Linked DNA regions of Homo sapiens: region 2 is linked to region 1. The links come from fine-mapping of genetic effects on gene expression. A gene starts in region 1. The other region holds a variant in brackets. All regions are shown on one strand. Distances are from middle to middle.

Region 1 (5,470 bases):
ACAAAAGTTAAAGATGTTCCCAAGGTCAAGCCATTGCCATGGAGTGGAGTGAGGACCAGCTCTCCTGTTTCCAGCCTGGGCTCCCCAAGGATGTCCCACAAACCTCAGAGAAGGCATAGTCTTAGTGCACCAGGACAGGAGGGTAGAAACTTCCAAAAGGGCTCGCTTTTCCAGCATGGTACCCTGGGAGCCCTGGCCAGGCCTAACTGAGGTGGTAACCTCACTTGAGGAGGAGGCCTGACCCAGATGCAGCCATGTTTCCCAAAGCTCACAGGGTGGCCTGCTGGGGGCCAAGAGGGCCTGGGCAGCTGTGGTCCGCCTCTGGAGAGGCTAGAGGCAGGTGGCAGGGGCAGCAGGATGCCGGTGGCAAGGCAAGGCCTTCAGGAGCTTGTGGCCACTGATCAACCTCAGAGTTGGGGAGAAGTCGAGCCTCTCCCAGTCCCTGGGACTCCTCCTTCTGGGGGCAGGCCCATTGGTCCTGTCAACAGAGGCTGTTTTATGGTTTAGGGTGAAAGATTGGCCCATCTGGTCAAACTCTTTAGGGCACAGTCCTGCTTCTTCCAGGAGCCTCCCCTGACTGTTCCTCTCAGCAACCCCTGCCCCAGTTCTAGGAGGCTGTACCCCACATCCACCTGGACTCTTTCTCCTAAGTCACTGGGTCTGGTCTCCCACACCAGATAGAGAATTTCCCACGAGGAGGCCTGTGACCCTCCTCCCCCAGCCTCGTACTGGGCATTGCCCTGAGCAGCTCTGCTTCTGGATGAGGAGTCCCTGTGCCTGCTGTCCGGGGGGCAGGGGCAGTGGAAGGCTTGACAGGTGGCCTTGGGGCAGACTTCCTCCTCTGAGACACTGGAGGTTTTCTTTCCTTTTTTTTTTTTTTTTTTTTTTTTGCCTCCCTTTTCAGAGATTTCTCCTTCCCAGGCTGAAGTCAGGGCACCATAAACAGGAGTGATAAGGCCTTGGGCCTTCAACTTGAACTTTGCAGCTGCCATTTTATGACTCTGATAACTCCTGTCACCCCGCCCCCCCACCCCGCCGTCACACCGAGTCCGGCTAGAGCAGGTTTGCCCCATTCCATGAGGGAGCGATTGGTAGCTGGTGGGGAGGAGGGAGAATCAGGGAGGGAAATAGGGACCCCTCACTCCAGCCTGCCCTCACCCAGTCCTGGTTGAGTCCCTTCTCCTCTCTCTGTGGACCCAGCCCCTGCACTGGGCTGTAAGAAACATGGGGATGTAAGAGACCCCAGCCCCTGACCTTATAGGATGGCCAGAATAGCCCAGCCTGGGAGGTGGGTAGGGCTGAAGGGTGGGGTTAGAGGGGGAAGGGTTGAGTTGGCTGGAGCAATCAGGGAAGGCTGTCTGGAGGAGGAGATAGAGTTGGGCACTAAACGAATAAGATGTGGAAAGACAGGGGGAGGGTAGGCATTGGAGGGAGGAGACAGATTTGGGCTGTCTCAGGAAGTGTGAAGTAGAAGTGGCCTGGTGTGAAAGGAGACCTCTCTGAATCCACTCTGCCCCTGGGCTCAGAAGCTTCTCGGGATGGAGGAATGGGGTGACAACAGTGGTCCCAAGATCCCCGGTTCATCCAAGAAGAGTTTGAGTGGCTTGAACCTGGGGTTGGGAGGGCCAGATGGTGGTTGGAGAGGCCTGAAGGCTTCATGCAAGTTGTGCCAGAGCTGTGGCCTCTGGGACAGAGCTTGGTAAGATTTTGAGTGCTCAGGAGGTGGGTCTCATGGCTGTCATGGGTGGAGGTGAGGCTCCTGCCAATTGTCAGAGGTCCGCTCCTAGGACAGGCAATGAGCTTCCCATTCCCAGGGTGCTCAAGACATCCGCTAGATGGAAACACAGAGATACCTGCTCTGGTGGAGGTGATGGTAAGGGAAGTGACCATGGGAGAGAATGAACTAGATAATCAAGATTCCTCACCCTCCCCCAGCCAACTTGGAGTGGGCATTTAAGGCCCTGCCTAAGCAGCAACTCTAGATTACTCAAAGTCTGGGGTAGGGAGAAAATCAACCTTTGTCTAGGTCTAACTGGTGGGAGACAGATGTGGCTCTTGTGTCTCTGGACCTCGCTTTGCCCATCTGTAAAATGGGCTTCAGTAGACTCAATGAGTGCTGAGGTCTCCCCTGTTCTAGAGTGAGATGATCCATGCATCTCCTGCCTCAATCAGCATCTGCCTCCCAGCCCAGGTAAGCCATCCACAGGAACACATATCACACCCACACATGGGGCACACGAGTACACATGTATCAAGGGCATACACATACCCACGTTGAGAGGAAGCAGAAGTGGGAGGAAGAGGGAGGCCACTGCTTGTTGGCATTGGCTCCCTGCTCAGCTCTCTCCATGTACAGGCCTGGCCCCTCCTGTTAACCACCACCCTTAGCCCCTCACTGCCCACCAGCTTCCACCTTGGGGTCTGGTACCTTTTTGCTTTGCTCAGTGGGAGGGCACACGGAGGGATGTGCCTGTCACTCACCTGATCCCAAGAACCCCTTCTCAAGTCCTGGGGCCCCCAGCACTGGTTCTGATGCTGACAGCCCACAGGCACCTCCAGACGGTCACAGCACACAAGAACGGCCCCTCACATCCTCCCTCTCACCTACGGTGTACCAAACCTTCCATCTCAATCGGCCGCAGTACCTGACTCTGCACCCACTGGCCGCCCCACCCCGCTGCGCACCCACAACCACGACAAGGAAGGCAAGTCTGGGGCCCACTCTTCCCCGCTGCCCCTCCACTGATGCTGTGCCTGCTCCGGGCTGCGCTGGGAGGGACTGGGCACGACCAATATCCCAGCCCTCGCGTCTAGGTTCGGTCTGGAGCGGTGGGAGGAGGCGAGTCGAGATGCTTGATGTCCCCTATTCCTCTTACACAGACACGCGCACAGACGGCCCGGCTCCCGCCATCCCCCACCTCCCCCGCCCTCCGCAACCCCCAGGCTGCCGGGACTCTGGGCGGCCGGGCGAACACTCACCGCCGGCCCAAGGGCCCAGGCGAGGGCGCCTGCCAGCACGCATAGCCAGCGGGCGGGCAGCGGACTTGGCGGGCGCATGGTCTGCCCTGAGCCCGCGGCGGGCGGCCCCGCGCGGGCAAAGAGCTGGCGGGCGGCGCACCAGGCGGGCGATGGCCGGGAGCCTGGCAGAGTGGCGCTGGCGCTGTGGCCCCAGAGCTAAGAGGCGCAGCTCAGGGCTGGGGGCGGGCCCCGGGGGCTCGTCTGACGGGCGGCGGATCTAGCCAATGGATGGGTGGAGGCGGGGCCGCCGCGCAGGTATGGGGCGGGGCTGGGGAGCCCCTGCCAGTGAGGAAGCTCTGCTCTCTCTTTGCCAATCCCACACCTTGGTCTTCCGTCGTGAGACATTTATAGGCCTTCGCCCCTCCGGGCTCATCACCCGGGAATCTCGAGACCCGAACACATTCCATCCTTCCATGCTTAGCTCACGACCTTCGCAAGCTCCCACCTCTGTATCCACCCTCAGCCCCATCCCAGGGCGCTCCTCATGTCTACCCTCGGAGCCACCTCCTCCAGGAGGCCTCCCCGCCAGCCTCCCCATTTCCCACCTGTGCGTCTCCGAGGGTTCGTGCGCGCAAATCCGATTACGAGACAGGAAGTGCCACTTATCTTCCCAGGCTGCGAGCTGGGGCCCAGCAAGTGTCCAGGCGCTGACAGAGATCGGGTTGTTTGATCAATTTTCAACAACCCCAATTCATCCTTCGCGCCGAAGAAGCCAGGCGAGAGGAAGCGAGGGCTCGAAAGAGGCCCGACTCTGGGTTCCTTGGTGTTCCCTGCTCCCGGGTGACCTGGTGGGGCGCGCTCAGCACCTGTTGGGTGCCCTGGCCCTTCAAGCCTCGGGAGACCTGCTCCAGGGAGGATGAGGTGTCCGCACCCTCGCGGGTCTCGTCCAGGGCACCTCCCCAGGGAGGCTGGGCTGAAGTGCCAGCGCCCTCGCGTGGGGAGCGAGGTCTGCTCCCAGCCCGCAGGCCGACTCCGCAGCTGACCTAAAACGATCCACAGACGTCGTCCTCCTCCTGCATTCCCTATTTTACAGCTGGGGATACTGGGGTCCAGAGAGGGGCCAGGACCCTGGCCGCCTGCCTTTGGTGCTGAGCTTCCAAGGGGCGGCTGCTCGGCCGCTGGGTGACACCGGGTCAGCCCCTTTTCTCGTTTATTCGTCCCTGGCATGGGGAGCGGGGTCACCAGCTCTGCGCCCTGGGAGCGCGTCTTCTTGTGGACCAAGCGCAGGTGGCTGCTAGCCCTCTTTCTACGGGCTCGAGCCTGCACAATCGAGGCTGGAGATGTGGTCGCGGCGGCAGGATAGAGTGGCTGGCGGAGCCGTGTGACAGAAGGAGAGGCGGAGTTCAGTGGAGAGGCGGAGAGGGCAGCGGGTCCCAGAGCCCTGAGCAGAATGTGCGGCTACCTGAAGGAGGTCCCGCGCTAGGCTTTGGCTGAACAGCAGGCGCGCAGGAGCTCCCTGAGGACCCACCAGGGCTTCCCTCCCTACAGAGAGGGAACGTTGGGATGCTGCCATGGGGTGGGCTTGAGGGGAGTGGGGGAAAGCCGGGAAGGGATGAGTGCCCTGGCCCTTTCTTCAGGGCGTACTTACACTTTCTTTCCACTCTCTCTTCTTTCTCTTCTTTCTTCCTCCCTTCCAGCATTCCATCCCCTGCACTTGCTCTTTTTCCCTTTCCTCCCTCTCCTCCTTCCCTTCATTAAAGGGAACCTCGCCACCATGGAGCCCCTCCCTCCTTTCTTCCATGCACATTTATTAATCTCTTTCTGTGTGCCAGGCCCTGTGCTGTGCACTGGGGGCACAGAGGTGGATGGGCAGCATCCCCTTGCCATGAGGGGAACTTGGGGAGCTACTGTACTCCCTGCAATTTCTACCTCCTTCCCGATATAATCAGTGAGGCTGGACACAGGCCTTTCCTTAGATTTGGGAGCTGTGGAGATGCCTCTGTCCTAGCCTTTCTTGGGTTTGTACTCGATCTCCCAATGGCGGGAGTGTTTGAATCATCCTCAGCCATCTCCTCAGCTATCCACACCCCTGACGGCTGCTGTTAGCTCAGAAATCAGGGGTCTTTGTCTCTCCTTATGACCCTGTGTACCCCGTCTCGGGTCTCAGTTCCCTGGCAGGACAGTGGAATTGTGTCTTTTTCCTGGGAAGTTACTTGTGCTGGCATGGTGTCCTAGGAGCCCTAGATGTGAAGAGCAAACCTGTGGGTTTGGGGTGTCATGAATCCTCAGCCCTCACTCCTCAACACATACATACACACACAGCACCTAGCCAGCTGCAGGATGCTGAAATCCTATCATTAATGTGTCATGCCCCCAGGGTTGTTGAAGTTCTCCTGCTCTCCTGGAGGACAAGGTTCTTGGACACTTGAGGGTATATGATGGGTGTGAGGATTGGAGAGGCAGACCTCACTTTGCCATGTGACCCACCAGTGAATGGCTGGTGGGCAGGGTG
Region 2 (5,253 bases), 24 kb before region 1:
GGGCTTAAAGCCACCCTCCACCAGGAAACTGTCTGGCTTCCACTTCCCCCTGTACCCAAAACATTGGTTCCCACCCTTCCTTCCTGTACCCTTGGTTTGCGACATCCTCAGAGAGAAGCCTCCCCCTGCCCCCACCACTCCCTTTGGTTGGAAAGTCCTTCCTCAGGTCTCGCTTCAGTCCCTCCAGTTACAGGAGTTCTTGCCTCCCCATCTTCCTCCCATTTGCTTTTGGAGAATAACTCTTTTTTTTTTTTTTTTTTTTGAGATGGAGTCTTGCTCTGTCACCTAGGCTGGAGTGCAATGGCATGATCTCGGCTCATTGCAACCTCTGCCTCCTTGGTTCAAACGATTATTCTGCCTCAGCCTTCTGAGTAGCTGGGATTACAGGTGCTGACCACCACACTCAGCTAATTTTTTTTATTTTTGTATTTTTAGTAGAGACTGGGTTTCACCATGTTGGTCAGGCTGGTCTTGAACTCCTGACCTCATGATCCGCCCAACTCAGCCTCCAGAAGTGCTGGGATTACAGGCGTGAGCCATAATCCGCGTCTGGCCATAACTCAGCTCTTTACCAGGACAGTTATCTGTGCTTCTTCCTAGTCTTAGAAAAGCTTCGCAGTAATGAATTGGGAAGCCAGTCTCCATAATTATCCGTAACATGTGCACAGGAGGCAGCAGGTTCCTCCACAGGTCCTGTGGCTCACAATGCTCATGTCTGACTTGGCCTCACAGCTCCTGGGACAGAACCTCTGAGAAGCTCTGGGAATGGCCAAAGTGGGTCCCCTAGGTTTTCTCTCCCCCTTGTTGAAATGCCTGAGATTCCAGTATGATCATTTCACTCTTTGGGGAGAAGGTACTGCTGACCCCTGATATAATGCACTGCCTCTGGGGTCATGCATGAAGCAATGAGTTACTGACCACAAGGAATGAGTGGGGGCTGGGGCTGATCTCAAGCTCTCTGTCAAAGCTTGGGGCACTCAGAGAGGGTCCCTAAGAATCCCTTGGAGATGGCCCCCTTAGTGACTGGCAATGAATTCCTTAGATGATCCCTTTACCTCTCTTCCCTAGGAAGGCCCAGAACCAGCCTGCTGTCAGGATCAGAACAAAAGAGGAGGACTGCATATGTATGGACCCACTCCAGATGGCACGGGGACGGGGGGAGTAGGAAAAGTGGCATGGTGAGCAGAGCCCTGGCTATGCAGGTGGCAGATGGCAGAGTTGGAAGGAATCTTGGAATTCCTTGCACAGATGGGGAAACTGAGGCTGTAAGTTCCCCAAGGCCACATAGGAAGTTAGCAACAGGTGGGACAGGTGCTCTGGGCTGTGGCCATGAAGTGTCCCATTTCCCATCTGCTTTTCTCACTGGCGGCGGCAGGTCTGTGAGCACCCAGATGGGTGAGCAACATCTCCTGTTGCCGGAGGGGAGTGTGATTTGAGTACTGCCAGGTGGGGTTGGGTGGGGGTTAGGCTATCCTTGGATTGAGGGGTGGGGTGGGAGGGAAGAGGGAGGAGGGAGAGGGAGAAGCAGGGGGAGAAGAGGAGATTACAGTGGTTAAAGATAACGGCGAGACTGAGGGAGGTGGGCCAGGGCCAGGATCCTCACCGAGCCCTCGGAGCACTGGTCCGACTCCCCGCTGTCGAAGAGGGCCAAGTCTTTGATGAAGACAGCGGCAGCCCTCAGGATGAAGGATATGAAGAGGTGCATGTGGATGTAGTTCCGCGTGCAGTGGAGCTTCCTGTGTGGGGTGGGCAGATCTGGGAGGCCAAAGGGGCCTTGGATCCCCACCCCAGCCAATGCTGTCCTATGTGCTGAGCAAGGGTGGGGCAGGGGAGCATGTGTCCTCCAGAGGGCAGGCCCCGCCTCAAAGGGGATCCCATCCTGAAATACGAGCCCCACCCCCAGGTACCCCATCCACCTGTGCAACTGGGCTCCCAAGGGCCTCAACCTCGTGTGTGGCCCCAGAAGCCTCATTCCTGTGTGCAGGCCCCACTCTCTGGTGCCCTGTCCCCAGGTGCAGGGCCATCCTAGGGGAGACTAGGCTGCAACACATGGAAGAGCTCAGCCACCTGCCTTCTCCAGGGGAAGCTGGCCTGGCAGGAGCTGGGGAGTATGTGCTGCTGGGGGGCAACAGTGGAGGGGTCGGGGCACGCCTGGGCCACGCTGGGCTCCACTGTGGGAGGGACACTTGCCAGGTTTGCTTTGAGGCCTGTGACTTGGGCTGGGCCTCACCTGAACAGGCTCAGGATAGCTGTGGCGACCAGAAGGGTGGCGAGGGACAGGCCGTAGCCAATGGTGTAGCCGGTCTTCACAGAACCGTAGAACATGGTCTGCTGCTGTTGGAGGGACAGGGAGAGGCTCTTGGGTGGTGGGGTGGGAGGCTCATCTAGGGGGTATTGGCAGGGGTGGGGTGCCCTACACACTCTGCCTGCCCAACCCTGCCTCAGCAAATGAGGAGGCTGAGGTCTGGGGCTCCCAAGAGCAGCTGAGCCCCTGACCCCTAACGCCCTGGTTTCTACAGACAGGGCAGGACTGTGTCTTAGGGTGGGGTGGGGGTTGAATGTACTTCCTGTCTTTGCTTCTTTACGAGGGACAAGTTGGTGAGGGAGAGAATGAAGACCTTGCACGTCCCTTTTGTTAATTTCATGTCTCCAGCCATGTGCCCGGCTTCCCTTCTGTGCCAGCTCTGAGCTGGGCACCCTAGGGGTGGGGTCTGCTTGCCCTTCAGACACCCCTCGAGGCCCTGTCTCTGTATAGGGAGGAGAGGTATGCGAGGTTGC[G/A]GGATGTCGAAGAAGACACTGGCACTAGTATGTCCCATTTTGGGCCCTTGGGAGTTGGGGTCGGTGGGATGAGGGCAGTCTGGCCTTTCCGGTGGAGGAGGGCAAAGCTAGGCCCCGAGGGTGTCTCGCTTGGTCCCCTCTCCTGATGCCCTCCCCATGGACACAGGTGCAGTGCAGCACGACAGCCACTAGGCAAGCCACTCCTTCCTGTCAGCCTCCCACGCTTGCCTGAGGAGAGGCAAGTGGTTAAGGGGGAATGAGGGCCTATAGCTCCAGTGGGCTTCAAAGGCCTCTGAAGAAATTGCTGTCCTCGGGGGTGGGTGGAGTGAAAGCCCGGTCTGAGAAGGGCGCCTGAGGGTGGGGCAGATGCCATCGCAGACAGACACACACACATGCATTTGCACCCCAAAGCAGTGAGGGGCTCCTAGCTGAGGACTCCAGCCTCCCCATCAATGTCCTTACCAGGCTCCCCAGTCTTTACAGAGACCATGTTTTAACTGCTCCGGGGAAGATATCTGTCCTGGGACTGAGAATGACAGGCTCTGTCCCTGTTCCTGACTGGCTATTTGGTAGCCAAGTCTGGTTCCTTCCAGGACCTGCAGCAACTCGGTTTCCCCTCTGGATGGGATGGGGTGCTGGTGTCTGCCTGCCCTGCCAACTCCCGGGCTGAAGTGAGGTTCCCATGAGGCAGTAGGGTGGCCCAGCCTGGGGGAGCTGCTTCAGCTTTTGCTGCTCTGGGGGCCCCTCCTGTGGGAAAGCCTCCTCCCATACCCTGTCAGGGGGAGCCAAGGGTTGGGACCCCAGAAAGGCAGGCCTGGAGGAGGCTAGAGGAGGGCAGACTCCAGGAGTCCTGTTCCCACACAGACAGCAACCACACCCCTCGGTGGGAGAGATCAAAGTCTCCTAGGTGGGCCCCGGCGCTCTGCAGGTGAGGTGGGGGTGCCCTGAGACCCACCTCATCCAAACTCGCTGCCTTGTCATCCAAACCACAGGCAATGGGGTACGGGCCAGGCTCCAGGTGCGTCCAGCCTTCGTCGGTGCAGCTGCGGCTTACATTGCGGCCTGGGTGGAGGGCAGGGGCAAGGACAAAGGCTGAGGCCGGGAGCATGGGGACCTGGCTGTCTCTGCTTGGAACAAGGCAGAGAATTCAGCCCTACTCCCACCAACCCTGGTGCTGTCAGGTTCCAGCTGCCCTGACCCAGTTACCCAGGGCACCGTGGGGGCACCTGGGGCAGGGAGAAGCCTCTTCAGGGCTCCCGCACCGATGATAGAATCAGAGCAGACATTCTTGGGCTCAGCCCTTTTGTTATGGTCTGAACCTGACCCCAAGTACAACATACACTCTTATCCTTGTCACAGACCCTGCCTGGATCCTTGTCACAGAATGATTCCTGACCCTTGCCGTGAGCAGAATGCTGACCCTTGTCACAAGGCCACGGCTGGGGGAAGGGGCCCAGGCCTGCCCGGTCCTCCTCAGTCAGCCTGCCTGGGCCTGTGGGGCTGGGTTTCTTCTCACACCTGGAAGGGCTTAGATGTGCTGCTGGAGGGGGAGCAGGAGTGTGGGGGTGAGGAGGGGTGGGGTTGGGGAACCTGTGCAGGCAAAGGCATGTGAGGGGGAATCAGGCAGCACAGCATGGCAGGAGCTTGGGGCTGAAACAAGCAGAGGCTGAGGCTCCAGGCAAGCTGCACTGTCCACTGTCCTCAGAGGCTTGAAGCTGCAGCAAAGAGACAGGACCGCTTAGGGGGTATGTGAGGTGAGGGGTACCACTGAGGCTCCCCACTCTCCAGCACTGGGGAGGTGTCCTCTCCCCAGAGAGGGAGAGGATGGGTTGAATAGAAATTAGATGAGCCAGAGAAGAATCACGCTTCCCCATCTCAGTACCCGTTCATCACCACCACCACCACCGCCATAGTCACCATGAGCAGCATCAGCAGCATCACTGTTGTCAGCCTCATCACAATGACAGGTTTTGAGTACTTTTCAAATGTCAGTGCTGGTCAAGCACTTTAGGCACATCCTGTTTAATTTCCTCAATCATCCAGTGAGGAAGTTAACTCCATTTCACAGTTAAGAAGTGGAGGCCCCAAGAGGTTGGTTACTTGCCCAAGGCTACATAGAGAGGACAGGATAGAGCTGATTTGGTCTCCAGAGTCTTCCCAGGTAAGCTTGGTTCTCACCTGCATGGAGGTGACCTGAGGACTTATTTCGGTGACCAGATAAAGAGCTGCAGGAGGGTCAAGCTGTTCTATGAGCTCAGGAAGTGTCACTGGGCACGTGTGTTTATTTCCAAACTTTGCCGTATGCCCGGAATATACCAGGTGATTCCATATTCACCATTTCTGTAAATCCTCCTGGCAACCCTTGGAAAGAGGTCTTGTCACCCTACTTCATGGATGAAGAACTGAGGGACAGCTAGGGGTGGGGATGGGACAGCCAGGAAAGAGCAGCCGTGGGCTGGGTCTATTTCCACCGCA

Evidence for each region.
Region 2: its variant is fine-mapped to the expression of VIPR1 in whole blood (TOPMed, PIP above 0.99). The same link has a PIP of 0.9 or more in CD4 T cells, T cells and blood mononuclear cells.

The regions. Positions count from the first base shown.
Region 1 is chr3:42,500,323-42,505,792 of GRCh38, reverse strand. It overlaps VIPR1 (vasoactive intestinal peptide receptor 1), which reads right to left and starts at 3,150. Exons shown (of 13, transcript NM_004624.4): 1 at 2,980-3,150. The coding sequence starts at 3,057. RefSeq lists silencers at 2,892-3,391, 3,452-3,551 and an enhancer at 4,079-4,652.
Region 2 is chr3:42,524,474-42,529,726 of GRCh38, reverse strand. VIPR1 (vasoactive intestinal peptide receptor 1) reads right to left here. Exons shown (of 13, transcript NM_004624.4): 4 at 3,734-3,840; 5 at 2,231-2,334; 6 at 1,604-1,736. Among named protein-coding and RNA genes, the nearest start is that of VIPR1-AS1, 5.5 kb to the left of the region's middle. RefSeq lists a silencer at 4,913-5,083. The variant G/A (reference allele first, on the strand shown) is at 2,779.